Regions from separate parts of the Homo sapiens genome. Here region 1 is linked to region 2. The links come from fine-mapping of genetic effects on gene expression. A gene starts in region 2. The other region holds a variant in brackets. All regions are shown on one strand. Distances are between the middles of the regions.

Region 1 (17,801 bases), 22 kb before region 2:
CCAGATTCTGTCTGCTCTTCTGTTCTGCCATCTTTTGCCACCTCAGCTACTGCAGCTTCAAATATCGTGTCCTCACAGAGCTGCATTCAATGGGAGTAGGAAGGGGCTGGGATAAAAAGCTTTCTCTTGTAAAGTTCTTTTGTTGTTGTTTTGTTTGTTTCCCTCCTTCCAGGAAGAGCAGTTTCAGGAAGTCTCCCAGCAGACCTCTCCTTTTGCTTCATAGGGCCAGAAATAGGCCACATGCCCACTCCTAGACCAATCACAGGCAAAGGAAAACAGAACAAGCCCAGTTGCAATTAATTCTCTTGGGGCTTGGATAGGGGCCCATCTTCTATGATCTCACTGGCTCCCTACCCACCATCTAAACAAGATGGGGCTTTTGTTGGCTAGGAAGAAGAGGCACATAGATAGCTCTTGGGTAAAATGTGAACAGCAACTGCCCTGTTGCTGGGGGAAGTGATCAAGATTTTTAATATCCTTTCTGCTCATGCCATTTTATTTAGAAATTGAAGTAACATGGAGATTTATTTTAATATAGTCATATAGTTAAGTTAGGCACATTACTGAAAATATATTCTAGCTGCTACAAGATTAATTGTTTGAAGATATCAAAGGGCTTTGAGAGGCATAGCTTCTTAGATTCCTGGCGGCCCATTAGATTGCATTTTCTTTCTCATACGATAGGACATCTGAACAGCTGAACATGAAACATCATGGAAACAATAAGATCATTGTTGCTACTTTCAAGGAAATACAGATAATCAAATTCAGATTGGACATGGGATTGACCAGATAGCAACGGAAGCTTGTGCTTATTTTCAACCTATTGTGGAATTGTCTTGAATTGATGATTTGGGGCCCATGAAGAGCTTTTTATTTTTTTGAAAATAAATTCACAATTTTAGAAAGTAGTCATATGGATTTTGATGTATAGTATAAACCATGCTGTAAATTTCTGAAGCTCTTTTTGGCATGCAAATGTTAATACATCTGCATCAGAAAGTATTTTCCTGTCTGTATTCAGTTTCAAGAAGAAAAACCATGATAATGAAATTAAATTATTTTCTCCAAAAAAACACAGTATCCCAGAAAAGATATAGGGGGGTCTGACATGAATCCCAGGAGATCCTGAAATTTCTAGAGATTTGAGCAATGTGTGACCCTTTACTCTTCAAGAAAGGAATAAGGATGAAGACAGGAACTAAAATCATTCCTGCCAACTAGAAACAGAATTGTGACCTCTCCCTAATGAAATCGATCCCACAGCTCAGTTAGCACCTAAAGACACCATGTGTCGCCAGTCTTTGGATGTAAGCAGTCATGTTAAGATTAAATAATGCAGAGTTTCCTTTGTTGATAACACTCTTTCTCAAGCCCCAAAAGTCCTACTAAATATTTCTGGGAGTCTGCAAAAAGCTACCTTACATGTATGTATGCACAAAGAAGTCTGCTAGCTGCAGTCATTACAGAGCATCGATTTTATCTTTCCTTTCCTGTTCTGGCTCCACACTGCCTTGCAAAGTAACTGGAAAGGCCTCTCTTTTACCCCCACTTATAGTAGCTATTTTGAAACCACCAGTGCCTATGCCAGGGGTACTATTTTTTAATGCTTCCCCAAATATCAGTTCTCCAGGCTGTGGTAGACTGGTGCAGCAAGACCCAGTGTCTTCTCAGTGGCTTACCATGATAAAAGTTTATTTCTTGCTGACACAAAATCTAACAGAGATCTGGGCAACCCTTTAGGACAGCTGTTTTCCATGAAGCCTCCCTGGTCAACTAAGCAGGTTTAAATTGATAACTTGATGGTGGTTACTCACTAGCTCTTTGCTTCAGGCTGCAAATGCTGGAACTAATCAATATGGCTCTACTTTAACTGCAAGAGGGCTAAAAAGTGCAGAGAGGTTCATGTATATGAAAAGGGAGAAGAACAGATTTTGGTGAATACTAGTGATATCTACTTTACAGGTCAGTACTTGGTCCTGGGGGAAAGTGGAAACAATGACCCTCTTTCTAACTGTTGCTTTGTTTTGTCACTTGATCTTCCAATCAGTACAGCTTACATCCAGAATCTCAAAAACTTTCTCATGAGTACACTCTGTTGTAGGCTCCAACATAGGTCAAGGGTGGAAGAAAATGCTGTGCCATCTTTCCCATTCTATCTGACTCATGTGTGTGTGTGTATGTGTATGTGTGTGTCATTATATATATGAGTCATTATATATATATAATATATAATATATGTATGAGCCATGAGCCATTCTCTCTGACTCATATATATATATATATATATATATATATATATATATATATATTTCATGACAAATTTACATACACCCTCTTTCCCCATTTTTTTCCATCCTCCTTCAAACAATAACCAACTTGTTTATTACTGTATTATGAAGTCTTAGCCCAGTGCCTGGAATTCAGAAATGTGTTAACGACTGAATGGATGAAAGGATGGATTGGTTGATGAGTGGGTGAATGGATAAATGATGGTCCTCTTTCCATAGATGATGCAACGAAGGGAACCTGGTTTCACTATCTACCCTATGAACTTGTCCTGTTACCTTGACCCTAGTTGTAGTCCTTCTGGCTTAGATACAAGCTTAGAAAAAGATTGCCTCTTTTTTTGGCTCCCTTTGGATAGAAATTTTGTTTAAGATTAATTATGTTAGTGTCAGGGGTTCAGTTTAGGAGATGAAATCCTACCACTCAGGGATTTCTAATTAAGGAATATGCACATGAGAATAATACCAAATAGAAAATAAAATACCTTTTTATTAACTAAGCGCCCATTTCTCTCCCAGGGCAGAGATATTTGTTAAACCAAATCAAATTATACCATGTAGGTTTGGAAACCTAAGGAAGGTTTCCCTCACTTCCACCCTGGGTGATGAAAAGATCTGGAACAGACCAAATACAATTTATGCACATAGTACATATGCACAGGACAGAGAACGGCCACGCCCTTTCCCAGTGTGCTGCAATAAGGGGACTGTAATTGCCAATGAGGGAACATCAGCTTAGAGACTCTGCCCTCTAGCGAAATGTGGTTTGGTAATTGCCTTGTGCTTTGAGTACTTGAGTAATTCCTCCTCCCTCTGGAAGAAGTTAAAAAGTAAGGAAGACAGAGGGGATGGGGGTGGCAGAAACGCCTCTTCCTCTCCAGACCAAGGTGGAAACGGGAGGAGAGCTGGCTTCTGCTCTTCTTATTCATCTTGAATATAATCTTCACTTCCCCTTTGCCCAAGCCCTTCAGTCCTTTCCCCAGGATCACATTCATTCTACTCCATGACAAAATGACAGTTTTGTCCCCAACCTAGGTCAGTGTCCTCACTCTACTACGTGCTTCCTAGAGGACAAGTTCAAACTCTAGGTTTATAACTGCACTTTTGTATAAAGTTCTTCTTATTTTTAACATAAAACTTGCTATGCACTAATACTGAAATCAATATAAACTTTATTTTGCCAACACATGGATTTCTGATCACGTGGTCCACTATTGAAAATTCTTGGCAAGCTTATCTCAATGAATAGCCAATAGCTAGATTCTGCTGCTGAGCTAGTCTTCATCTCCTTAACATATTTGCTACAAAATAAAAAATCCATAATAATGAAAAAATTGGGGAGATGGGGAAAGACTATGAAGGGTTGGCATAATATAGGCAGTGTGGGAGGGGAGACTTTGGATGGGGCAAAAATCAATATTCCCCTTTCTGGCTTCTTTCACTATCTCCCATTGCCTCCCAATAATATGCCATCATTTTCACCCATTCACCGTCAGTTCTACCAGCCTGAATAAGTGTAAACAGCCTCTGTCTGTGCCATAAATAACCTATTGTGATAGTTCTCTGTTAGATTAACACAGTTCTCCTTCGTTTCCCATTAACAATGCTATTTATTTAGTAGTTCTGTCAACAAAATTTTAGAATAGACAAATAGCATAGACAATGCTTCAAAAAATTGTCATTACTGCAGAATCTTAAAAACAAAAACAAAAATGAGGGCAATTAAAAAACGTAAGTAGCGATTACAAACACGCCACCAGAGAAGATTGTGGAACAGTGTCGCAAATGATTAAAGAAAAATATGACACAGAAATTCTTCAGTTTTCAGGATGGCAGATAAGAAAAGGAACAACTCGCTGAAACACGAAAACTCTCTCTGCTTGTAGGATAACAACTGGCTGAAATCGGTTGGAACCATTATGGCCAACTGGAGTCTGTGTAGAACAAGCTTGCTGACATCACAGCCTGAATTTCCACTGCATGTTTCATACTAACTTCCCCCAAATTTGCACATGTATTCCAGGAGGTAGCATGAAGAGATAACTGCATGCCAGAGGACTTTCCAGACCTCCCCTTTCCCTCTACCAATCAGGGGTAAATCCCAGAATCCATCCCCTAAACCTTCATAAAAGTATTGCCTTATAGCCAGCATGAGGAGATAGATTTGAGTTGGACACCTGTCTCCTTGTTGGTCGACCTGCAATCAAAAGTTATTCTTAGCTGGGCACGGTGGCTCACGCCTGTTATCCCAGTACTTTGGGAGGCTGAGGCGGGTAGATCACCTGAGGCTGGGAGTTTGAGACCAGCCTGGCCAACATCGTGAAACCCCATCTCTACTAAAAACACAAAAAATTAGCTGGCTGTGGTGTGGTGGTGGGTGCCTGTAATCCCAGCCACTAGGGAGGCTGAGGCAGAAGAATCACTTGAACCCGGGAGGCGGAGGTTGCAGTGAGCCAAGATCGAGCCATTGCACTCCAGACTGGGCTACAAGAGCGAAACTCTGTCTTAAAAAAAAAAAAAAAAAGTTTTTCTTTTCTCAAAAACCCAGTATCATAGCATTGGCTTCTAGCACATTGGGAAAGGAGCCTCTTTTGCTCAGTAACAATGGCAAATAAGTACATTAAAGGATGCTTAACATTATTAGTCATAAGGGAAATGAAAATTAAAACCACAATGAGATACTACCACACATTCATTAGAATGGCTAAACTTTTAGGAAACTGAACATACTGAGTGTTGGTGAGGTTATGTAGCCACTGAAACTATTGTACAGTACAGCCACTTTGAAAGACAAGTAGGGAGTTGCTTGAAAAGTTAAACACATACCAATGATCAGATCCAGCCATTCGGCTTCTAGGTATTTACACAAAAACAATGAAAGAAAACATGTGTCCATATTAAGACTCATACAGGAATATTCATAGAGCTTCATAGAGCTTCATTTGTAATAGCCCAAAACTGGAAACCATTCAAATGTCCATCTGCAGCAAATGGACAAACAGATTGAGAATACCCATACCACGGAATACTACTCGGCAATGAAAAGAAAAAAACTATTGATATGTGCAGCAATATGGATAAATCTCAAAATAATTATGCTGATTGAAAGAAGCCAGATTTAAAAAAAGTGTGTATGATGTCATTCATGTAAAATTGCAGAAAATGCAAACTAATCACTATAGTGACATGAAGCAAATAAGGGTTGCCTGGAGATGGGGATGAGGTGAGGTGAGGTAGGGAGGAAGAATTTACAAAGGTGCATAAGAAGACTTTTCGGGATGATGAATATGTTCAATGTCTTGATAGCAGTGATGGCTTCGTGAGTGTATACACATGTTGAAACTTACCAAATGTTATATTTACATATATGCAGTTTATTATGTCAATTATATCTCATAAAGTTGTTGTTTAATAAAAGACTTTTAACACTGGTTTTTGCACCAGCCAAAGATGAAGGAACCGGCTTGTATCTTTCCATTAAGTTTCAAATTACTCTCCCGGAAGCTCCCTTGAAAGTGTAGGTCAGCATAGCGGAGGGGTGAGCGTGCTGAGTCACCTATCACCCCACTGTGCTTTTATCCACTGGTTTGTTTATAGTTTCTCTAAAGATTTCTTTCCAAAAAGACCAGGCTTAAGAGGGGAAAAAAATGGAAAAGGCTTTAAAATTCACTGGATCTTTAATGCCTACTAGCTGTAACATTATCAATCTAAGGTTCTATAAATGAGGAATTTTGTAAAATACTGTCTTTTTTAACTGAAGAAGCCTTCAATTATAAAAGACACACCATATCCCTAGCTTTCCTTAACAGCTTTTTAGGGGAAAAAAGCAAAATAAATGAGTATACTTATTATAAGATGCACTTCAATTTCAAAAATATTCAGAAGTATGATTTTAGAATACACATTCCAGCAAGTAGTCCTAGAGTTTTGGAAAGGGTAGGGTGGGATCGGCCTTCATAAACTTAAATTGCCTGAGTTGTGGTCTCAGCACCCAGGCTAGTCTCAGGCACCATCTCCTTCCTTTAAAGAAGAAGCAATACACTAAAACCCTAAACATTGGATTCAGCACTAGTTTTTTTCTTTTTTCTTTTCCCAGGCTTTGTAGATGGTGAGGTTATAGCCAAAATCCCATTTAACTCTTAAGAATTTAAGCTAACTTTCATTCATTTATTTATTCATTCAACAAAAACTTATTGGGCACCTGGCACTATTCTAGAGTCTGGGGACTCTGTCTGGGGACAGAGTAAGAAACAAGACAGACAAGAGTCCCTGACCCCATAGAGCTTACATTCTAGCAAGAAAACAAATGTTTAAAAAGTATACAGATAAAACACAATATGGGTGTTTCATATTGTGGCTCATATAGGCATGGTGGCTCATGCCTATAATCCCAGCACTTTGGAAGGCCGAGGCAGGTGAATCACCTAAGGTCAGGAGTTCGAGACCAGCCTGTCCAACATGGTGAAACCCCGTCTCTACTAAAAGTACAAAAATTAGCCAGGCATGGTGGTGCGCACCTGTAATCCCAGCTGCTTAGGAGGCTGAGGCGCGAGAATCACTTGAACCCAGGAGGTGGAGGTTGCAGTGAGCCGAGATCGTGCCATTGCTCTCCAGCCTGGGCGACAGAGTGAGACTCCATCTCAAACAAAACCAAAACAAAAAACACAATAGCATTTCAGATTGTGATAAGTGCTATAAAGAAAAGCAAAGCTGCTTAAGGATGTAGAAGTTGTGTGGGTTATTTCTGATAAGGTGTTATAAAGACTTCTCTGAAATGACATTTAGGTAGGGATATGAATGATATGAATGAGTGAACTATGTAAAAATCTGGAGTGTAGCATTCCAGGCAGAAAGCACAGCGAGTAGCATAAGTTCCTGAGGAGGACATAGCTTGGCCTGTTTAAGGAGCAATAAGGTCAGTATGGCTGGGGTACAAAGAGAAAGAGGGAGTGGTCAGAGATGAAGTGGGAGAAGGAAGCTCTTTTAGGTCACAGTTAGGAGCTGGCATTTTATTCTCAGTGTGATGGGAAGCTACTGGAGAGGTGATAAGTTTCTGAACCCCCCACTGAGATTCAGAAGAAACATCTTCCAAGCACAATATTGACATCAGCAGTCTTATCTAATCTCCTCTACGGCAAACGGTTAGATTCCCTCTATCAGCCACGAAAGATAAAAGTACGAAGAACACTATACTGTGCTAGAAATCAATGAAAAGGGTCAGTCACATGCTACAGACAGGGGAATTTTTGCAAGATACAATACAGATGAGATTAGTTTGAAAAAGTGGCCAGTCCTATCTATTACAACTCAGTCAGAAGAAGGAACAGCTAACCAAGAAGTGGACCCCAGCAGAACCCACCTATTTACTCAGGGGCTAGGGTCAGAGATGAGGTGAAGCAAGAGATGATATGGGGGTATATCTGGATCCCCCCAACAACTCTGCAACAGTTTACTTGATAACCGAAGTCATACCAAGCAGGATCCTTCAGTGTCATTTACTGCCAATGTGCCTTTGACAAGGATAAATATGCCTGGCAAATATCCGGGGTGCTACCTTGTCTGGTATCTAACAAGGCAAACCTTGCCATGCAAAGAATAAAGGCATAGACCCAGTTACTTTCTAATTACACAGCAAACAAAAAAATGAAGCTCTTTAGTATACAAGTGAATTTCCTAGCCACAACTACCTCAGGAACTGGTGGTTTCCACACTATCCCCAGTTTGATACCCGAAGTAACAAAGAAAAACAACTTAAAAATCAAAATTGTCTATATAGCCTTCATTTAGACATCACAAAAACTCTGAGAGATTACATTTTAACTTTCCATGTGAGGCAATCAGAAACTATCCTGGCCGGGCGCGGTGGCTCACGCCTGTAATCCCAGCACTTTGGGAGGCCGAGGCGGGCGGATCACGAGGTCAGGAGATCGAGACCATCCCGGCTAAAACGGTGAAACCCCGTCTCTACTAAAAATACAAAAAATTAGCCGGGCGTAGTGGCGGGCGCCTGTAGTCCCAGCTACTTGGGAGGCTGAGGCAGGAGAATGGCGTGAACCCGGGAGGCGGGGCTTGCAGTGAGCCGAGATCCCGCCACTGCACTCCAGCCTGGGCGACAGAGCGAGACTCCGTCTAAAAAAAAAAAAAAAAGAAACTATCCTAAGCTTACTTCTTTAAGAGTGTGCAAATGGGAGCATTTATAGGTGATACAAAGAGATAAAAAAGAAGAGCATCGATCTATCAGAGAAATATCTTCCCATGAAATACAGTTGCTACAACAAATAAGAGAAATTTTAGAAAATTCCAAATCAAGTTTTTGCCAGATTCAAGAGGACTCTGAGCCAGGTGTGTGTGGCTCATGCTTGTAATCCCAATGCTTTGGGAGGCTGAAGTGGGAGGATCACTTGAGCCCAGGAGTAAGAGGCTGCATTGAGCCATGATGATCACACCACTGCACTGGGTGACAGAGCAAGACCCTGTCTAAAAAAACAAACAAAAAAAACTTCAAGAGGACCTTGAAACTTCAAATCGAGAGCACATAGTCATGAAACATTAATGAAAAAAAAAAAATCTAGAACCATCTGTTGGTTGTAGTGAATTTGATAAGCCTGTCTGGATCAAATTTCTTAATCCTATCCTGCCACCTCCTTTCAATACCTTGAAAAACGCCACCGTTTAGAGTATGTGCACAAGTGACAAGTTATGGTCCCGAATCATGATCTCATCCATCCTTGTGAGCTAGGTTGGACTGAATGTCTTGAGCCCAAATGAGTCCTCTTCCTGCCCATGGGGCTTCCTTCACTCTGGTTCTTCCTTAGTCTTCTAAGTGGAGGGAGCAACATTTTTAACTGGGAGGGATAACCCAATGTCTTTCCATAGAACCAGCTTCACGGGAGCAAAGGAAGACGCCATTCAATAGAAAATACCTAACAAGAAAGAACTCCAAGATCAAGTGGCATTGGAGCATTTATCCTAACACAGTTCAACTTATCTATCTACATACACCCTTCTCACTGGAAGTACTGATTCCATTCAGATATCAAAGGAGAAAGCCTTGAGCTCCCCCTAGAGAACAAAGCATGTAGCCAGTATTTCCTGATCTTAGCTCTCTGTAGGCTTCACAAGTCTTGCCTCCCCTTCTCTGAAAGAGGCACTGGCGCCTCTTACTGCCTTGGGCACACGTCTTTACAGTACTTACCGCATTGTGCTATTTGTTGCAGCTCCTCATTCCCTTTCACATGTGAGCCTCTTGACGGCAATCAGACTGTCATTAGGTTTTCTCTTCTATCCCTTAAAATGGTGTCTGGTGCAAAGCGGGCCCTCAGCAACTATGTTTGTTAGGGAAATAAAGCATTCAGGAGAAACAAAAAATATTAACATTCCTGGAATGTTAATATTTTGTCTTTCAGTGCTCAGTTATTTCTCCTGCTTTCTTTTCTACTTCTTTACTCCACCACATATTATAACTAGCAACTTACATAGCCCTTGTTCATGCAATATGACACTGAATCCTACAATTCTATGGGAATAGAATTTCCCTTTTACTCTTACTAGAAAAGAAAATGGACATTCAAACAGGTGAAGTGAGCTGCTTAAGGTCACATAGCCAGGAAGTATTAGAACAAAGAAACAAAGCCAGGTTTTTCTGACCAGATTTCATGATCAACTAGGTGACTTTACTGTGTTCCTTTGGATTTTTACCAGCTTTAGCCTTAGTTTGTCTGCAACCGCCACACATGCACACTGCATACACAGTATACACACATGCACACTGCACATAAATTAGCAAAATGAAGATAACTTCTTCTGGCTCTCCCTTCTTTCTGCTTTATAACATGATCACTGATTGTAAAGCATTCAAACAATATACTCATTCTCAAGCTTGATTGCACATTGAATCATCTGGGTAATTTAAAAAATTACTAGAACCTGGGTTCACTTCCAGTAGTTCTGACTTAATTTGTCTAGAGTGGGCTGAGCATTCAGATTTTTCATAGGTTGTTAATGTACTAAGTTGAGAACCACTGCAATACAGAAAACTGTAAATAATTTTTTAAAAATCTGTAATTCCTTGGCCAGGCGCAGTGGCTCATGCCTGTAATTGCAGCAATTTAGGAGGCCAAGGCGGGCAGATCACTTGAGGTCAGGAATTTGAGACCAGCCCAGCCAACATCGTGAAACCCTGTCTCTACTAAAACATACAAAAATTAGCCGGGCGTGGTAGTGCGCGCCTGTAATCCCAGCTACTCAGGAGGCTGAGGCAGGAGAATTGCTTGAACCTGGGAGACGGAGGTTGCAGTGAGCCGAGATCATGCCACTGCATTCCAGCCTGGGCGATAGAGCAAGACTCAGTCTCAAAAAAAATTCTGTAATTCCACCACTCTGAGATGATCACCATAGTTAATATTTTGGTGAATTTATCTTCTCTTTACATTGAAGCATACATCCAGTGTTACAAAAAAGGGATAACATGCAAGTTGTTTTGTAACTTAGTTTCTTTACCTGCACCCTTTTCCTCACCTGTATGTGTGTGTATGTCTGTATGTCTGTAGTGTGTATTCATATATACATTTTAATGGCTTTGTAGTATTTCACGGTATAAAGGTAATACAATCACTTAAAATCTCCTTCAGATAGATAGATAGATTGATAGATAAATTTTCTGTTAAAATCACTACTTCAGTAAACACCTTCGTATATACTATTATGCCACCAGGCTTGTTACAGCATCATTATTTATCTAATCTGATTTACATGTTATTACAACATTTTCTCCTCACCTAAATTAAGAAAAATGAGAGAGGATGCAAGAAAGAAAGAAAGAAAAAAGATATGAAAGGCAAGTCCAGGAAACAGAAAACCCATCTCTCTTACAAATTTTCTGAGCTTATTTTTGACACATATTGGAATGATGCCCTTTGTTTGAAACCAGGGACGACCCATTTCCTAACTCTGATTTCCTTGGAGCCCTTTTTCTGTAGCCCGGGGAGGGGTGAACATGAAGCAGCAAGCCAGGTAGATTCCAGAGGCAGGGTCTCAGCAGGGTGTCCATCAGCCACAAGAGGTCACTAGGGGGATTTTTAAAAACCCTCGCTTCCCTGAGCAAACTCTCCCAGGTGAATACACTAGTTTTCAGGGTGTGTTGGCAATGGTAGAAATGATGGGAACAGAGTGATCTGACAGGATACTAGAATTCTGAATTTATTGTAGACATTGATTTGCTGCAAGATGTAAAGAAAAACATTTCTTTTCCCAATCACACCACCATTGTTTTAGGAATTATTTTGCCATCATAGAAAAGGAGAGACAAGTGGTATGCTCATAGGCTTTGGAGCCATAAATACTGAAATCATATCTCAGCTCAGTATTACCTTC[A/T]GTAAGTTACATAAGCTTCCATTTCCTCATCTGGAAAATGGCCACAATGAATGATGATACCTAATAAATGAAATAAGCCTGCAAAACGCTTGGTACATGTTAAAAGCTAAATAAATATTAGTTGCTGTGTTTGATATTGTGTCTGTGTTTGATATTGGAGGAGAGATGAGTTTGGTTTGGGGCATTTTGAATTGGGCATGCTGTTGAAATATCAAAATAGAGACAATAGCAAGAGCAGAGGGAAACATTTGTGGTCATATACTGCTCATGGGGGTGTTAACTAAACATAGGGACATAGTCTCTTTGTTATGCAATTGGCAGTACGTTTTGAGAACTAAAAGTGTTTTCATAAGTCAGGATGCAAAGTGTATAAAAGGGACCTCAAAATACAACAGCTTAAACTAGGTCAAAATTTATTTCAATCTCATTTAACATCCAGTAGGCAGGCAGTCCAGGGCTCCGCCACCCAGAGCTGGCTTTATGAGGGTTTGTCTTGTGCAGTCACACAGAGCCCCACAATCAGAAGGGCCCAATGTGTAGCCTAATGCTCTGCTGCTGCCATCTTGAAATTCTTCATAATTTCATCTTTGAATTTGTATTTTGTAAGTCAAATCCAATGGGACAATGAAGCATGCACATAAACAGAGGAATACACAGTAGGTGCATCTGTCCTTCCTTTGTATGACACCTGTCATTCACAGTAGGTATATCATGTCATGCCACCATGTTTGAATGTAGTAACGGCAATGCTCTCTGACCACAGAATCCCAGTAGACCCACGATGCATGGGAGTTTGGGGAGACTCCAAGTGAGTACAAGTTAAGTGTGTTATGTCTATGACTAACAGGGGTCTGGGAGAGAGTACTGACAGATCCCAAAAGGCCAAGCATTCCATTCAAACTAGACTTGCTTCTGTTCCAGAAAGAAAGCAATGGCATTGTTAGAAACATGAACAACAAAGGAACCCCACCACATCCTTTATTACTTGTGCTACTTCCCTGTATCAGCCAGGAACTTACTTTGAAAATAACACAGAAAGGGAACAATAGGGTAACCTGTAGTTCCTTTTCCTGTCAGTCCTTCCTTACTCATCAGTAGGTAGAAGGCAAAGCATGTTGATAGAACATATTTTATCAAGCAGTGAAATAAAAACAGTTGAATTTTTTGTGTGTGCATTGTTCCTACTCTTCTGGTAAGAATGAACTACATATCCATGTATGAACCACAAAATACAAATTGTAATTTTTGTGATTCGACACGAGTTAAGTGCTCTTATATTTGCATTTAAAATGGGTGTGGCACAATATAAAAATGAAAATTTATACTGATTTAAACTTTTAGTCTTCTTTACTTAAAACAACATTAAAAAGTAACAAAAATCCTATAAGAAATTAAAATAAAGAGCTTGGAAGAAAGATAAACTTTATCTTTTATTACCTTTAATGGCACTGCTGTATTTTCCACTTGTGGATTCTGTGTCTGCTTCAGCTTTTGCTATCTTCTCACCAGTAAAGAGCTGGGGAAAAAACAACAATGACAGGGAATTGAGCATAATTCTTTTTGTTTGTTTGTTTGTTTTTGTTTTTCGAGACAGAGTCTCACTCTGTCACCCAGGCTGGAGTGTAGTGGCGCGATCTCTGCTCACTGCAAACTCGCCTCCTGTGTTCAAGCGATTCTCTTGCCTGAGCCTCCTGAGTAGCTGGGATTACAGGTGTGCACCATCACACCAGGCTAATTTTTGTATTTTTACTAGAGATGGGGTTTCACCGTGTTGGTCAGGCTGGTCTTGAACTCCTGACCTCGTGATCCTCCCGCCTCAGCCTCCCAAAGTGCTGGAATTACAGGCATGAGCCACCATGCCTGGCAAAGCATAATTCTTTAATGGGCCCACATCATTTCATTACACTCACATCCCACTAGCCAGACCTGTCACACAGGCACATCTAGCTGCCAGGCTGGCTATATAGAAATATCATTAACGACGTAGCTATAGACCCAGCTAAAACTCTACTACTTTAGAAGGGGAAAATGGATATTGGGGAACAATTTGCAGTTGGCCACAGCATTAATTCAATTTGATCTAATATTTCTGGTCCTAGAAGTTTATGAATGAAAAAAGCAGAGGTGTATAAAAAGCTTTACCTATAAGGTTATTCATTGCATCTTTATGTATAATAACAGCAAACAATTAGAAATAGGCAGACTTCCAATAACAGAAGTTGGTTTGTTACAAGAAAAACTTGGAACTTTAATGTTCCCTCCAAACTGAGAAGGAATGAAGAGACCAAAGAATGACTTGAACGAGTCCAGCTTAACGAGTAGATGAGTTTATTAGGACTTATGCACAGGGCACTCCTGGATGGTGGCGGGACAGCTCTCGAGATCCGCACCACCTCCCATCTCTAAACTGCTTTTAAGCTAATTTCTGGCTCTTTGCCTGCTGTGTTTGAGCAATGAGACTGTTTTTCTTGGTAGGTTCTCAGATACTCTCCGGGATATTTGGGTTTTCAGGGACACTTGTTTAGTTCTCTGCAGGGCATCATGACTGTGAGTCACTGCCCAGTCTTCAGGGTTCAGGCAGCAGACATATACCCTTAAGTATCCTGGTGGGGGACTTGTCACACTACCAGTCAAATAAATAAAGGCATATATATATGTATATATATATATCTTAGAATATTATAGACCTATTAAAAATTACATTCTCAGATATGGTTTTTCTATGATTATGTCATAGGAAAATGCTCAAGATGTAATGGAACACAAAAAAGCAGAATGCAAAACCCTACATATAATGCAATTTAGTGGCATTTTTTCAACTATGGGGGTAGTGTCTGGGTTTATCCAGGGATCAAAAGGACAAGACTACAGGCCTCACAGGGTAAATTTCTCATGACATATGGTTTGAACTACAGCCCTGCAGCATCATATCTGGATTTTATTTATAGGCTCAGAACAGATACATTTCTCAGAGTGAATCATCTTAACCAGGGTCATAAGATAAAAACATAGATCCAGAAGACTAGTTATTCATTTACAATGAGGTATAATAGTGACATAAACTGTATGTGTGTGTGTGTATATATGTGTGTGTGAGTGTGTGTGTGTGTATTAGTCCATTTTCACACTGCTGATAAAGACATACCCCAAACTGGGCAATTTACAGAAGAAAGAGGTTTATTGGACTTATATTTCTACATGGCTGGGGAGGCCTCACAATTATGGCAGAAGGTAAAAGGATGTCTCACATGGCAGCAGACAAGAGAAGAAAGAACTTGTGCAGAGAAATTCCCCTTTTTAAACTATCAGATCTTGTGAGACTTATTCACTGTCACAAGAACAGCATGCGAAAGACTTGCCCCCATGATTCAATTACCTCCTAACAGGTCCCTCCCACAACACATGGAAATTCAAGATGAGATTTGGGTGGGGATGCAGCCAAACCATATCATTCCACCCTGACCCCTCCCAAGTCTCATGTCCTCACATTTCAAAACCAATCATGCCTTCCCAACAGTCCTCCAAAGTCTTAACTCACTTCAGCATTAACTCAAAAGTCCATAGTTCAAAGTCTCATCTGAAACAAGGCAAATCTCTTCTGCCTATGAGCCTGTAAAATCAAAAGCAAGTTAGTTACTTCCTAGATACAATGGGGATACAGGCATTGGGTACATACAGCCATTCCAAACTGGCCAAAACATTGGGGCTACAGGCCCCATGCAAGTCCGAAATCCAGCAGGTCAGTCAAATCTTAAAGCTCCAAAATGATCTCCTTTGACTTCATGTCTCACATCTGGGTCAAACTAATGTAAGAGATGAGTTCCCATGGTCTTGGGCAACTCTGCCCCTGTAGCTTTGCAGGGTACAGCCTCCCTCCTGGCTGCCTTCATTGGCTGATGTTGAATGTCTGCAGTTTTTCCAGGCGCACTGTGCAAGCTGTCAGTGGATCTACCATTATGGGGTCTGGAGGATGGTGGCCCTTTCTCACAGCTCCACTTGAGCTGTCCAGTAGGGACTCTGTATGGGGACTCTGACCCCACATTTCCCTTCTGCACTGCCCTAGCAGAGGTTCTCCATGAGGGCCCCACCCCTGCCACAAACTTCTGCCTGGGCATCCAGGCATTTCTATACATCTTTTGAAATCTAGGCAGAGGTTCCCAAACCCCAATTCTTCACTTCTATGCACCTGCAGGCTCAACACCACATGGAAACTGCCAAGGCTTGTGGCTTCCAAAGTCTGAGGCAACAGCCCAAGCTGTACATTGTCCCCTTTTAGCCATGGATGGAGTGGCTAGAATGCAGGGTACCAAGTCCCTAGGCTGCACAGGGCAGGGGGGACCTGGACCCAGCCAATGAAACCAACTTTTCTTCCTAGGCCTCCCGACCTGTGATGGGAGGGGCTGCCGTGAAGACCTCTGACATGCCCTTGAGACATTTCCCCTTTGTCTTGGTGATTAACATTTGGCTCCTTGTTACTTATGCAAATTTCTGCAGCTGGCTTGAATTTCTCCTCAGAAAATGGGATTTTCTTTTCTATCACATTATCAGGCTGCAAATTTTCTGAACCTCTATGCCCTGTTTCCCTTTTAAAACCGAATGCCTTTAACATTACCCTAGTCACCTCTTGCATGCTTTGCTGCTTATAAATTTCTTCTGCCAGATACCCTAAATCATCTCTCTCAAGTTCAAAGTTCCATGAATCTCTAGGGCAGGGGAAAAATGCTGCTAGTCACTTTGCTAAAACATAACAAGAGTCACCTTTGCTCCAGTTCTCAAAAAGTTCTTCATGTCCATCTGAGACCACCTTAGCCTGGATTTCATTGTCCATATCATTACCAGCATTTTTGTCAAAGCCATTCGACAAGTCTCTAGGGAGTTCCACACTTTCCCACATTTTCTTGTCTTTTCTGCGCCCTCCAAAGTGTTCCAATCTCTGCCTGTTACCCAGTTCCAAAGTCATTTCCACATTTTCAGGTATGTTTTCAGCAGCGCCCCACTCTACTGGTATCAATTTACTGTATTAGTTCATTTTCACACTGCTGATAAAGACATACCCGAGACTGGGTAATTTATACAAGAAAGCGGTTTAATGGACTTACAGTTCCACGTGGCTGGAGACGCCTCACAATCATGGCAGAAGGCAAGGAGGAGCAAGTCACATCTTACATGGATGGCAGAAGGCAAACAGAGAGCTTGTGCAGGAAAACTGCCCCTTAGATAACCATCAGATATCATGAGACTTATTTGCACTATGAGAGCAGCATGGGAAAGACCTGCCCCCATGATTCAATTATCTCCCATCAGGTCCTTCCCACTTGTGGGAATTCAAGAGGAGATTTGGGGGGGGACACAGCCAAAACATATCTGTGTGTGTGTGTGTGTGTATATCTATGTACATATATATATCATCTCATGTATATGATATATAGAGATGATAATACAGCTTGGCCAAGGAAATTTCAGTCCAGCAAAAAGATAGATGGTTTTATTCTTAAGGAATTTTCCAAGAGGATTTTTTGAGAAAAGCAGCCAGAGTGAGACAACAACTACATTTCTTAGAGGGTCTTAAGTTCTCTCTGTAAAGAATTACAGACAAATGGAGGCATAGAGTTTCCATGTCCTCCAGCTGTTTTCAGGAGCCCTGGTGCAGCTTGTGAGCAGAAATACTAGTGTTGGCTTCAATTTCCTGTGGAAAAGAGATGTGATGTGGCACAGGGAAGGAGTACCGAAAATAATCTGTTCTAAAGACTTATCTGGGTGACCTTTGGAAGAGACGAAAGGGAGGGCGTGAGATAGTGAGAGACTCTGGAGTATTTATGGAGTGAAAAATCAAAGAAAAGTGGGTATAAAGAAGTGTTACTCTGTTTATGAATCTGATCTTTGTTAACGTCCCTTGAGAAACACAAATATGCTTTTAAATTATTTTTTCATTACTTTGATTACATGACTTTGCATGTGTTCATGGCAGGACTGAATTCCATGGGACCTTGGTTTATAATCAAGTAATATTCCAAGGATACAAATGATATAAAGTAATTAATGATATCAAAATCTTCATATTAGCAGTGAAAAACAAAAAAATTATTTGTAATGGCCCCAAAGACTTTGATAATACTCAACATCTGTTCTTTTTTTTTCTTT
Region 2 (14,521 bases):
CTCAATTTTAAATTGATCTGTTGCCACCATGTAATTCCCATTTCTCTTTGTAAACTTTTAGTTATGTCTACATAAAGGCTTTTTGAAAGTGAAATTTTTGTTTGTTTGTTTGTTTGTTTTGGGGTTTTATGGAAATCAAATAAAGGGAACCAAATTTCCCATCATGGCACTGGCAGGGCTGGTACAAGGGTCTGCTGTGATGAGCCAGGTACTTGACTGAACTGAGTTAGTGAAATGAGAAGCTCTGAGCCAAGGTGACATTAATATTATAACTCCCTTGGGAAGTTCCCCCCAAATTAGGGGAAAGCATTGAACTTTCTGGAAGTTGTAGAATGAAGATTTGAGCCAGCCCTTTCTGTATCTAAAAAGACAAGGAGACCCCAGCTGAGATCTGAGCTATACATACCTATGTGTGATCCTGCTTTCTCTTCCCTATTAGACCTGAGTCAAAAGGGACCCTCACTTTTGCAGAATCTCTATAGGCAGCTTCCCTCATAGGTCCAGGATGGATAAGGGAGTACATGCATCTTGAGGAAGAAGATGTCAGAGACTATGCCTTTGGGGTTGGAGGAGGGGAGAGGGCACTGGAGAAATGACTGGCAAATTTACCTTCACACACTGTGAGCAAGAGGTAGCTGCTTGTTTTCTCTGACCACAACATCCCAGAATATAATTATTATATTTTTACTTATTCATTTACTTAACAGCTGTATGAGACATAATTTGCATATCATAAAATTCATCTATTTAAAGCACAAAATCCAATGGTCTTCAGCAGATTTACAAAGTCGAGCAAGCAGCTTCACTATCTAATTTTAGAAAAATGTTGTCATTCCAAAAGAAATCCAATGTACATTAGCAGTTACTCCCCATTCCCTCTGCCCTAACTGATCTAGGCAATACTAATATATTTTCTGTCTCTGTGGATTTGTATATTTTAGATATTGTATATAAATGGAATCATACAATATGTGAGTTTTTGTGCCTGGCTTTTCTCACTTAGCATAATGTGTTCAAGGTTCATCCATGTCGTATCTTGTATCAGTACGTCATTCCTCTTTATGACTCAATAATGTTCCATGGTATGGATATATCACATTTTGTTTATCCATTTGCCAGTTGATGAACATTTGGTTTGTTTCCTCTTTTTGGCTGTTATGGATGATACTGCTGTGCATACTAGGGTGTGTGTTTACGTGGATGTATGTTTTTATTTCTCTTGGGTAGATACCCAGGAGTGGAATTCCTGGGTCATATGGTAAAAAACATAATTATTTTTTAATAAATGACTGCCTTTCTATTCTTCCCATTTTTTTTAACTGACAGCTTTTCCATTCCTCCTTCGGATCAGAGGGTCTCTGTTCTCACTTGGCAAATGACCCAAAGAAAAGCCATTAAACGGAGTGGCAAAAAGAGCAGGCCCGCCCTGGGTCTGGGTAGGAAATAAATTGCAAGAGCATGAATACCCTCCTTTTCTCCCCTCCAAGGAAGCCAGGACATCTGCTGCCTGGTCATGATCACTGAGCATGCAGCCTCCTGCTGGAGTGCCAGCAATTGGACGAATTTTCCTGGGCTCCCTGCCACAGAGATAACTTGTTCCAGCCTCTTATTTACACCTCCATCTGGCACCCCAGTGGGGGATCTAGCACGCCTAAGAGTCAGCTGTGCCACGGAGGACAGGCGTGCTCTGGTGCAGGCCAGCCACACACCTTGAATGACATGGCGGAGGGGTGCTAACGAGGTCAGCTGTCTGCCTGCCTGGAAGGTTGGGTCTTCCAGCTGCCCGATCTGCTTCTAACTCAGGAAACATGGGTGCAAGGCCTTATCTCTTTATTTATCTTCCCTCCTTCATTCCTTTTTACACTTTCCACAAATAATATTGCCATTTTCTCTATTTTCCTCAAACGTGCTTCTACTTCTCTCCATCTTTTCTGAATGTAAGTTATACCCACCTTTGGTTTATGTAACAGGGGATGAAGTCTTTCTTTATTTGTAGCTCCCCACTGCCTTCTACAGGGGTACTCTTCTTGGATGCGAGTATACAACCTCTGAGATGAACTCAGGCTCCAGCTTCATTTTCTACATAATAAATGGAGAAATCTTTTGAGGGTGGAAGTGGGATGGAAGATTCCAGATGAAGGACACAGGAGATAATGAGATGAGATTGAATGCTGTGGGAGCAAAAATTTTGAAAGGACTTCTCTTTGGTGACAGAGGGAGAGAAGAATGTGGAGAATGTGGAAAGGAGAAAGGCATAGTGACAATGATCATCACAGGACGTGTTATTTATGTGGTACTTACCTTTGCTAGGTATATGCTTAACACTTTGATTCATTATTCAACCCAATCCTCCAACAATGTTGTAGGGTACGTTTTATTATTATTATTATTTTTGCTGAGGAGGAAACTGAAGTTCAAAAAGGTTAGAGAACTTTTCCAAAGTAACCCAGCCCAAAAGCTCTGGGCTGGAATTTGAAACAAGTTTGATCTGACTTCAAAGTCCACATTCTTAATAACTAAGTTATATTGGCACTCCAAGAAGGTTTATAGCTGAACCTTCTGAAGGGCAGAGAGTTGAATTTGTAGGTGACTGGATTAATAACCTGGGAAGCGGAGTGGCTCCATTCTTCACTTTGTGTGAGAGCAGGTGGCACTGAGGTGGCCACTGACAGGCCTGCCACCCGCACACGCTGCTGGCTGCTTGCCCCTTGCCAGTCTGGGACTTTTAGCCAGGCTTCCAGGAAAGTGTAGTTCTGGATTTGGTCAGGCTGGCATTCTTCATTCCTAAAGGGTGCTGAAGTGAGATGCAGGAAATCCAAATAGCTGGAGGAAAAGAGGCAGGATATTAGAACTACCTGTTTCTTCCATACATACCAGCATTCTGAAGATTTCTAGGTAAGAGTCAATAAATAATCCATACCAACAGCACTTCTCAACAGAAAACATTTCTTCTTCTTCTTCTTCTTCTTCTTCTTCTTCTTCTTCTTCTTCTTCTTCTTCTTCTTCTTCCTCTTCCTCTTCCTCTTCCTCTTCCTCTCCTTCTCCTTCTCCTTCTCCTTCTCCTTCTTCTTCTTCTTCTCCTTCTTCTTTTTGAGATGCAGTCTCGCTCTGTCACCCAAGCTGGAGTGCAGTCGCCTATCTCTGCTCACTGCAACCTCCGCCTCCCGGGTTCAAGCGATTCTCCTGCCTCAGCCCCCTGAGTAACTGGAAATACAGGCGCCCACCAACACACTCAACTAATTTTTGCATTTTTAGTAGAGATGCGTTTTCATTATATTGGCCAGGCTGATCCACCCGCCTTGGCCTCCCAAACGGCTGGGATTACAGGCATGAGCCACAGTGCCTGGCCTGAAAACATTTTATCTTCTAATCTATATTTATTATATTACTGTTTAAAATTATTTTCTTTTTTCTAGAGTAACCATATATCTCAAAAACACGCAATTTGGGCAGCAAAGACCACAGAATAGCACAGCTAGAAGAGACCCCCATTTTGCTGTATAGATAAGAATTCAAAGCCCTGGTTGGCTTAAGAGTCATAGATCTGTGTTTCAGTCCCTACACTGCTGCTTACTAATGGTGGGACCTTGGGGAAGATACCAGATCATCTCCCCCCTTTCCAAAACAATGCCTATGCTGCTGAGGTAGTGGAGATTAAATGACACATTCTAGAGCCCAGAAAAGTCTCCCTAATAGTACGTGCTCAACTAATGGGAATACGCTCCAGTGGGCAATGTCATCAAGGCAAAGCTAGGGCCAAAACCTTGTTTTCTGATTCTCAAACTTGTGTGTGCATGCGTGTGTGTGTGTGTGTGTGTGCATGTGTATGTGCACACACAGGCATCAGCTGTGTAATGCTCGCTTTATAATATTTTACACTTATGTAGGTCTTCGTAGTTTTCAGAGCACTAATTTACATGATATCGTTTGATCACCGCAACAACACAGTAAAATTAGGCAGTAGTGGTATTATCAGGCCACTTTACACGTTAGAGAAGGGAGGCTGGGAAAAGCTGACTTTGTTCAGCTCCATGGCCAGTCAACAGCAGAACTGGACTCAGCACCCACATACCTCATGCCTCCTTATCTAGAGATTTTTCCACCCTAGCAAAAGGCCATCTCACCTTAATGCCAAAGAGTTTTATGAAAGTTTTATGAAAGAGTTTCTGAAAAGTTGTTATAAGGAAGAGTGAAATAAATACTGTGCTGGGGGTCATAAATGACCTAGGTAATTAACAACCTGATTAGATAGGGAAAAACTGAACTTTGAGATGATTGAGCAAAAGACAAAGAGAAAACACTGACAAGGCAGTTAACAACCCAATTCAAAGACATATGGAGAAATGGGGGTTGGTGGACACTTCAGACCACTGTGTAACTCTTTCCTGTCAGCTAAATACTCGTCACTGAGTGTGAAATTATTTCCTGTTCACTCTGCCTCTGCAACATCCTAACTGCATGTCCATATTTCCTCAGACAAGGAAATCCTCCAGTTCTTCAACATACTTCAAGCATCAGCTTTACTCTTTAGTCAAAGGGGTATTTTTAAGCCCCACAATTTGGATACTATTGAATTTACTTACCCTGGATACTTGAATATACAAGGCACTCTAGTGTTCCTAGAATACACAGAGTTCAGATTTCTTAGTGATGAAGAGCATCTAAAAAAATTACCACAAGGAAATGAAATGGGACCCATGACTCTTTCATTCTCATATCTGCTGCACCCCAGTGGCTGTTGCTCCTGGACTTCATGGTGGTGCTTTAAAACTATTTATACCGTCAGATTTGGAGCATCTTAAAAACCTACCACATCTCTCTCACAAACTGACATCTAATACTCTGATTCTATGAACAGACTAAAAAAACCATTGGAGTGTACATTTTAAGTGGGTGAATTGTATCTATGTGAATTCTATCTCAATAAAACCGTAAAAGAATTGAAAGCAGAGTCTAAATAAAGATATTTGTACACCCATGTTCATAGCAGCATTATTCACAATAGCCAAAAGGTAGAAGCAACCCGAGTGTCTATCAACAGACGAATGGATAAACAAAATGCAGCATACAATGGAATATTATTCAGCTTTAAAAAGGAAGGAAATTCTGACACACACTACAATGTGGATGAAACTTGAGGACATTGTACCAAGTGAAATAAGCCAGACACAAAAAGACAACAACTCTATGATTTCACTTACGTGAGGTACATAGTGTAGTCAAATTGATAGAGACAGAAAGCAGAATGGTGGTTGCTAGGGGGTGGTGGGGAGGATGAATGGAGAGTTGTTGTTTAATGGTATAGAGTTTTAATTTTGCAAGATGAAAAGAGTTCTGAAGATTGGTTGCCCAACAATGTGAATACACTTAATGCTACTAATCTGAACACTTAAAAATGGCTAAGATGGTAAATTTTGTGTTATGTGTGTTGTACCAGAATTTACTGAAAGTAGGGAGGCTGTGGTTCTTGTGTACCATTGCAAGGCACTACAGCCTGGATTCCTGTGAAATTCCAAATGAGCAATGATAGAAGAGTTTTCAGAACCTAGTATAGTTTTAGAAGAAAGGAATGTTCATACTCTACTTATTATTTATTTCAAAGTTCTCTGGGATGAGAATTATAAGCCAGTTACTCTAGACTTTTCTGAGATTGATACTAATATACACCTATATTGATACTCATATATCTATTGATTCATTTATTCCACAAAAGTTGATTGGTGTCTAGGCATAGTGCTGGATAATGAGGAAACATTGGTAAGACATTACTACCCCCTACCCCCCTAGGTCTTACAGTCTGACAGATTGAATCAATTGACTTGGCCTTGTAAAAAATCTCGAATATTTGGGCTTTTCATAGGACTTTTCTTTAATGTTACTTCACACAGTCATCCATAAATGCTGCAGTGACAACAGCAGCAACAACAACAACAATCTCTTGGTGTTTTTATGTACATTCTTGTATTTGGTTTGATTTTATTTGATTCTCAACTTCAATCTTCTCTTCCTTTTAGAATGCAGGTTTCTTGAGAATAGGCCAGTCTTACTCACCTCGTATCCTCTAAAAAGTCTCCATAGCTAACAAAATGCCTTATACACATAACAGCAAAACACTTTTGAGAGCCATGCTGAGAAAACATAGCTCTATCTCTAGACCAAAGTAATAACTACTGATTTTGGGGTCCTGAAACTATTCCAACCACCAAAGCAGATTGCAATATGATAAGGAAATATCTGTACCACAGTTTGGAAAATATATTTTAAAATGCCAATCGTGATTCTTCCAGTTGCATTGTGTAATGTGGTCTCTTTTTATGAAAGTTCTTTCTCTATAATATTGCTAATTCTACAGTAAGTGTAACTCTATAATATGTGAGATTTATTTGCATGTAGAAGTTTGCTTATGACTCAGACCTCATGTTATGCATTAATAACACATTTATCTCATGGCCTGTGGATTGACTTATATAGATATCACATTCAAACCAGAAGAAATATCTAGAGTTGGGCAGGGAGTAGAGAATAAGCGAGGCTGTTGTTAGAAGTATTGACTGTAACGATCATGAATAGTATTGTTGTTACATTGCCTATTTTAAGATCCTACAATCAAAGGCCTCTAAACCAGTTATGCATTCAGATCTAGCTATTTAATGAAAACCTATTCTGTACAAAGTGCCACTCATATATTATTTCATTCATGCTTCATAATACATTTCTGATAGAGGCATTCCTAGTTCATTTTACAGATGGGGAAACTGTGGACTAAGGTTGAAGAACTTCCCAGTGTTTCACAGCCTCCAAGTCCAATGCTGTTTCCACATATAATACTCAATTTTGAACATTGTATTGTGTTAGGAGACTTAACAAAAATAAAAATAAAAACAAAAACCCTGCAAGCAGTGTATGTTGGTCAAGAGTTGCTGTTTCTCTAAGGTCCAGTAAGCCCTTAGCTTTGTTTTCCTGAACTTTGAGTTTCAGTTGCACATCAAGCCCCAGAGGTGGGCAAATGCTGATGCTACAAGAACAGCAGCAAGTGGCAGCACTCAGGGCAGGAGTACTCATGCTGTTCTGACATTCCTAGCCAGGCTGTTGTTCACATGGAGCCATGCCCAGCTCACCAAGGACACCTACGTCTGCTGACGCAAGTCATTCCTCCCTGATTAATGAAAGTTTAATGTCCAAGGTTATAAACTGCTGAGAAGGCAATAGGGAAAGAGCTAATTTATGAGTCTGCAGTTACCAAAATGTAAGCAGCTCTGCTTTAGATCACTGTCTTGGAATGAGACAAACTCTCCAGCTACCTGTACTGTGACTCTAGACAAGTTACTTGCCCTCTCTGAACCAGAGTTTTGTTATGCATAAAATGGGGGTAATAAGCGTTTCTTCAGAGAGTCGCTGATATTGGAGATAATTTATGAAAAGAACCAGGTACATCATAGACTCTCAAAAAAAGGATAGCTATTATTGTTGTATAACAAGAATAATTAGTACTAGTAGCATCTCTCAGCAGGTAGAATGTTTTAGCTATGGTTCTGACTACCCCAGCCCTGACTCCTAACAACTTTCATTACACCCACTCTCTATTCTTTCATCACCATCCACCTCTTGTTCCTCCATTCTCCTTTACCAAAAATCATAGAGGATGAAACCTCACATAGCCCCAAAGCTGGTCACATTGGTCTGACAAATATGGTAGCAGGTGCTTCAATGAGCCCAGTTGAAGATGGGGAAACCAGGAAATGTGCCATCAGATACTAAGTGGAGTCAAGGGAGCTGATAGGACCTTTCCCTGGTCTATCCCTCTACTATCCTCAGGACAGGGCTTGGTGGGAACTTCCCTAGCCAAATGAGCCTCAATATTGTGTTTCAAATACTTCAATTTCCTTCAATATTCACATTCAGTGATGAATACTTACTGTTCTCAGAAGCCTTTGTTTTCAGGAAAAACTTGATGGTGGCTGAAAACATGATGGCTCTGCTTGGAGGGAAATGCTTGTTTTCCTCTCTCTAAGTATAAATGCTCATTCACACCTTTCCTGGCTTTTTGAGAGGTGGCAAAATGCCCAAGATTGATTGCCAGTTACTTGTGTTACCTGAATGAGGCCCTTGTGAGTCTCTGATCTAGGAAAAACAACCAAAACTAAACCAAAACTCTTTTTAGATCACCTAGTTCCGTTTATTTTTTCCTTCATTTTGTTGACATTTCACCTTTTCATCCATAAATTCTGGTGTTACACTCTGCACAATCAAGCATCTTAGTTTTGTTTTCCATTTTATGAATTATTCCAGAGGAACATGTTCATGAGAATTTACCCTTTTTTGTAATTACGGTCATTCCATCACTTTTAGATTTCCCTCATTTATTTGCCTCATTCATCATTTGCCTCTGGAAGCATATAATATTTTTATTTACCTTTTCTGGAATTAAATTTGGGTTTCATACTTAGGAAAAAGCCCTGCAGAATGAACCCATACCCAGACAGTACCATATTTAGGGGTGTTGATGGCTTAGTTCAATCACTTTAATTCTAGTTTTTAACCAAATTTGAAGACAAAAGTACAAAGGTTAAAAGAGAATGGGAATACAAAACAATGATTTCTGGCATTAAATACATCAGAAAGCCCAGCTAGGTTTTGGAGGACTGGAGAAGATGGGAGAGACAATGATTTTTAAAAACAGAATGTTTTGAATTTTATTTCCAATTTGGACAAAATTCACACATGGGAAATTCAAGGATTCAGAATCAATTTCTTTTATTGAAAGATTATTTAAATTTAACTATAAATTATAGAATAAATTGTTGGAATTGACTACTAATGATATACTGAAGATAAATAATGAAAATATAGCATTGATTACCTAATTTGGAAATAATAATTCTTGAATGCCTACTGCGTACAGACACTATACAACTCACTTAATGCTCCTGTGAAATTGAGATCCCACTTTACAGAGAAGAAAATAACGGCTCAGACAAGTAAAAAACAAAACCAAAAACCCGTCACCAAGTTCATGTGTTTTGTAAGTGTTACAGCTACACTAACATTCTTCCTAGTATCATTTAATGGACCCTAGAGCTCCATCATTGACTAGCTGTATGACTTAAGGGAACCTCCTTATCTTCCTTGCCTTAGTTTCCTCATCTGTGAAATGGAGGGTCTGGATTAGGAACTCCACGGTCTAAAGACATTCCTTGCAGCTTTAACATTCTATGAGCATAAGGAGTATATGGGCATGATTTTAAGGACTGGTTGTTTATGAGCCAATCAGAGGTGTTGAATAAACACCTCCCTACTAGGTCAAGGTAGAAAGGGGAGGGCAAATATTGGAAAAAAAAAACATGATGAGAAGTCTATAAAAATTGTGTGCTACCAAAGATCTGTCTTATTTGGCAGCTGCTGCCTCACCCACAGCTTTTGATATCTAGGAGGACTCTTCTCTCCCAAACTGTAAGTAAAAAAGCTTCCTTTGTATACCTGGACAGCACCAGTGAATAAGGGGTTAATAATACTACTAAGCTTATAGAAGGGAAGATTGGTTTGCCTTTGTTTTCGGGAAAAACTTGATGGTGGCTGAAAACATGATGGCTCTGCTTGGAGGGAAATGCTTGTTTTCCTCTCTCTAAGTATAAATGCTCATTCACACCTTTCCTGACTTTTTGAGAGGTGGCAAAATGCCCAAGATTGATTGCCAGTTACTTGTGTTACCTGAATGAGGCCCTTGTGAGTCTCTGATCTAGGAAAAACAACTTGAACACTCCTATCGTTAGGTTCTAATCAGTTTTTGAGATTCCTGTTCATTTCAACTCTCAACTCTCTTTTCATAACAACTACTTATTTTAGTGATTTATTTACATATCTACTGCCTTATGTCATTTTCTACATTCTCTTCCCACACCTACTGGTACCGACACTGAAGTTTCTTTGTCACAGAAACAAACCCTTGGAGTATTTTGCCCTTCGCCTTCACCCACTGCTCAAATGAGGAAATGCAACAGGGTTGGAAACTTCACAGAGCATAGTCATCATTTGATTATGAATTTCCAAACCCTTCATGTTTGACACTTTCTAGAACATTTCCTGCTGGCCCCAGACACTGTGAAGACCCTACAGCTTAAGATAGTAGGAATCAAAAGGTTGTGTATTTTGATACATTTGCTCTACTATCTGAAAAATAGGCATTGTGAGAATATGTTGCCTTTTTAAAAAATAACTTCTCTTTAAATAGTTACCTAGGGCTCCATTAGACAATTTGGATGCACCAGAGCTTGAACTCTGCTACCCTGCTATTCATCACTTTAGCTAAGGCACATCTGGGTAGCACCCAGGCCCAGGTTAGAGCCAGAGATACTGGGGCAGGGAATGGGGAAATGTTGAATATCTAAGAGGTCCTTTGGCTTCATTCCAAGTTTAGAGGAAAGAGCACCATTCAGGACTCGTTCTGGGCTGCTCCGCGTGTGTTAAAGGGCACTGGAAATCAGGCTGTCCTAGGACTGCCCTAGATCATCCCACTGCACTTGTCACTGGGACATTGGGGTGGATAATGAAGCTATTGGCAGCTTTAAGCATCATGTACAAAAGTGCTGCATGCAGTGCCTAGAAATCATGGGCTATCAATAAATAAGCCTCCTCATATTTGCCTTAAAAATCCATTTGTCTTGTACATAGAGAAGCAAATGAACTTTCTGCTGCCTTCTATTTCTCCAGGAATTAAATATCCATGTTACAAATAATTATGTTTTCACAGAACATCTTCAAGGAAGGCAGAAAGAACCATACCATAGGATTCTACCTGCTATTTTGCTGAAGGATTAGAAATAGAATTCTAAGTCATAAGCCAATAGGATGTAACTTGCAATCCTAGAACATCACAACTTAGAAGGCACATCAGACATAGTCTCTCTGGCTTTAGTTTCCTCATCTCTAAAGTGACAGGGTTGACGCAGGTATCTCTGAGGTCATTTGTAGCTCTGTTTTTCTGTGGTTACCTTCTGTTGTTAATACAACTTTCCTCCAGATTTATATACATATTACTTGTTACACATATGTAATAAAGTGCGTGATAAAGAATGTATAAAATGAAATGTGGCCGGGTGCAGTGGCTCATGCCTGTAATCCCAGCACTTTGCGAGGCCAAGGTGGGAGGATCGCGTGAACTCAGGAGTTCAAGACAAGCCTGGGCAACATAGCAAGACTTTGTTTATACCAAAAATAAAAAAAAAAATAGCTGGGCATGGTGGCAGGCGCCTGTAGTTTCAGCTGCTTGGTGTCTGAGGTGGGAAGATCACTTGAGCCCAGGAGGACGAGGCTTCAGTGAGTCATGATTGTGCCAGTGCACTCCAGGCTAGGCAACAGAGCAAGACTCTGTCTCAGAAAATAAAAAAGAAAGAAAGAAAAAGAAAAGAAATGTGAGAATCTCTCCACCCTACCCCATTCTTCAGAGGTAACTCCAGAGTTGTTACTCTTTGTTTATATAGACACAAAAACAGTATGGGTATATATCATTTTTTAATTAAAAAATAGGAGGACAGTATATATTGCATACTTCTCTGAAACTTGTTTTTCATTTAATAATATAATGTGAACAACTTCCATCACACTGAAAAAAGTTGGCTTGAGATCTGAGAGAGCAGAGGCTTAGGAGTACGGAAATCGTTCTTTGTCATTACCCATCCCAGGTTGTCCTCCTGTCTCCTTGTGGTGAACATTGGCCTGTGACCCTGTTTTATGATTAACAGAGAGGTGACATTTGTGCTAACGTGGTACAGACCTTTAATCCCACTGTAGAAGTTTAACTCCCTGTAAACAGTATTAGTTTGAATTATCATTTTCACTGTTATTCTGGTTGAGTCAGCATACCCAGATTGAAGAAAATAGTTTAGTAATAGGCAGTAAACAGAAAAATGGAGGTCACTTAGGTGATTTTTTTCATTAAAAAAAGAGAATTAGTAATACATTGCATTTTATAGTGCTTTGTAAAGAATCTTCATGTTTATCATGCAATTTAACAAATATATTTTGAGCAACTACAATGAGCAGGGTGCTCATAGATGGCATTTGAGTTACCTGGCAAAGAGACAACCAGAACAGTTATTATCACCATTTAATCCATAGTAAACTGAGACTCAGGAAGCTGCCTGACTTGCCTGAGGTTCCAGCTAGATTAGGCAGAGCTGGTTCTTAAAACTAGGTCTGTCTGATCTGCTAGCAGCAAACCTCTACATAAATGTGTCAGATGTTTATGAATAAGTAATGTCCATGGTGTAATCACCCACAGCGTAAGGTACTCTGGGGTGTCATCAAGGACATTAGGAGTCATCCAAAGGCCATTTTTTTCATCAAGCTCACTCTTTCCCTTGAATGGAAAGGAGTACTGCCCCTTATCTCAACTTGATGCCTTATTAGCTATTTGTCCTTGGATAAATAATTTACACTCTCTTATATTCTTTCCTAATCTATTAAATGGGAGGGGAAAAGAGCCCAACCACCTTCTGGGATTATTTTCAAGAAAAATTATATAGTGCATGTAAAGCCATTAGCAGAGTGCTTGACAATACATGATCACTTGTTGTTATTATTATTATTGGGCTGATTTTCCCTTTTGTTTCATTAAGAAAATATCTTTCTTTCTTGGTAATTGTCAACTCCTTTGTACAAATGCCTAAACTGAGAGAGAAAGTTTGCACCTTGCTCTGAAGATCACACCCAGGTTGGCTTTTTTCAGCATGATGATCTGGAGGCCAGGTCCAAAGCTAAAAGTCTTTGACTCCAATATTACAGCTAATATATAAACAGGGCAAACATGCTCTGCTGGTGGCTGGGACATAATGGGCCTTAGAAGGTCATCTTCTCTAGAAATTGTTGCCCACTAGCTTGTCCTATTACCCCAGTAACAGCATTGCAGTTTCATTCTTTTGGGGTAAGACAAGAACCTCTGTTGAAATGGAGAGGCAACAATGAGATCATCAGTTATACCTTCTCATGAATTAGCTCAGTGGCTACTGACTTTTTATATCAAGGGACAGAGTACTGACAGCCTACCCTGAAGGGATGCAGAAAATGTGGAGAAATATATTTGTCATGAGGACAGGACTGGATAGGGACTCTGCTTCATCCTAGCTGGGACCTTGAACAAGTCAGTTAGCTTCTCTACGTCTTAGCTTGCTCATTAATTAATGAAGATAATACCTGCTATAATTACCTCATTGCCAATGGATCAGATGAGACCTGAGGTGTCCCTGGGCTTCCGGGAAGTAATATGTAGACATGGAGCATCCACCCTGTGCTGAGTGTATTGGAGGGAGAGAAGATTAGAGAAAGGAGGAGACCCTGGCATTGGATAGGAAGCTACCCAAGATAATCTTCATTACCATTTTTTCTTTGGTAGCCCAACCTATGCAAAAAGCACTCTTTGTAACACCCAAAGTGAGGGCTCTTTGAGCTTGCATTTTCAAGATTAACCCAAAGTGGCATCCGAACAGGGGCAACGATCTCCTTCAGAGCACAACCACTGTGGAGGCTGCTTGGTTAGGGGGTCTTCAAGCCAGAGTCTCCCCTTGCTAAAGCAGTGAAGCTGGAGCAGGGACTGCCATACAACTTTAGCATCCTCATAGGCAGTGAGAAACCCAAGCCCAGAGGCACTTAGGAAACATCCTCTCTGGTCTGCCCCAAGTGGTTTCATAGAGGGTTGAATATAAGGAAAAGGAAACTTGCACCCAACCCTCTGTAGCCCGAGGCCAAATGGAAGTTAGCTTTAAGACTATGTATAGATTTCTCCTTTCAAGTTTGTTTCCTGGAGAATAATCTGTTGGAACTACAGACTAACAGAGCAAAGCAGAGGATAACTGCAGAGGTCAAGAGCGACATTGTCCTGGCCTCAAGCCATTAAGGAAATCCAGTGGCACCAGGAGTCCACAGAATAGAGAGACAGTCCATTACTGCAGTCCCCTCTATTAGTCATATTTTAGTGGGTCACTAATTAGCTGGTTCAGTGTTTTGATTAGTGATTCCAAAGGCCTGCTGGAAAGCATTCTGTCTAGGATCACCATGAACATTCAGTAACCCACCTTCATTCATTGCAGCTAATTGCAACTAATAAGTGATGGGGGAAAAACAAACCTCATTTGCTTATCCACCTGTGGAAATGGGTCAGAGGTGTCACAGAGGTCTGCACAGCATGTCTGCACCCCCAACTGTCTTGGTCATGCATCCATCTGAGCCACCCATGGTTCTGTGCACAACTCTCGCACACTCTTTTCCAGACCTGTCACCATGGCCCACCGATTTCCAGCCCTCACCCAGGAGCAGAAGAAGGAGCTCTCAGAAATTGCCCAGAGCATTGTTGCCAATGGAAAGGGGATCCTGGCTGCAGATGAATCTGTAGGTGAGTGTAAAAAGCAGTCTCATCATATAACAACATATTATTTTTTCTACACTTAGCAAAAACAACTTGATAATCATATTCTTTATGGAAGTAAAGGTTTATGTACACGGGAGTGGGAGCAGAAGACTCAGTAAGCGT

Alleles and levels. Positions count from the first base shown, and alleles are read on the strand shown. Sizes are in standard deviations (SD) of each study's normalised expression.
With allele A in place of T in region 1, the expression in subcutaneous fat of the gene that starts at base 9,385 in region 2 is lower (large effect, 0.92 SD a copy in TwinsUK).

The links. PIP is the estimated chance that this variant, and not a neighbour inherited with it, causes the effect.
Region 1: its variant is fine-mapped to the expression of ALDOB in subcutaneous fat (TwinsUK, PIP 0.95).

What each region holds. Positions count from the first base shown.
Region 1 is chr9:101,450,753-101,468,553 of GRCh38, reverse strand. LOC105376184 (a long non-coding RNA gene) reads right to left here. Exons shown (of 4, transcript XR_001746862.2): 3 at 13,098-13,176; 4 at 9,465-9,613. TMEM246-AS1 (TMEM246 antisense RNA 1) reads right to left here and starts at 115. Exons shown (of 3, transcript NR_121576.1): 1 at 1-115. RefSeq lists a cis regulatory region at 5,834-5,844 and enhancers at 5,767-5,911, 6,299-6,815, 6,816-7,332. The variant A/T (reference allele first, on the strand shown) is at 11,661.
Region 2 is chr9:101,430,638-101,445,158 of GRCh38, reverse strand. It overlaps ALDOB (aldolase, fructose-bisphosphate B), which reads left to right and starts at 9,385. Exons shown (of 9, transcript NM_000035.4): 1 at 9,385-9,450; 2 at 14,262-14,383. The coding sequence starts at 14,272. LOC105376184 (a long non-coding RNA gene) reads right to left here and starts at 3,016. Exons shown (of 4, transcript XR_001746862.2): 1 at 2,302-3,016; 2 at 1,953-2,079.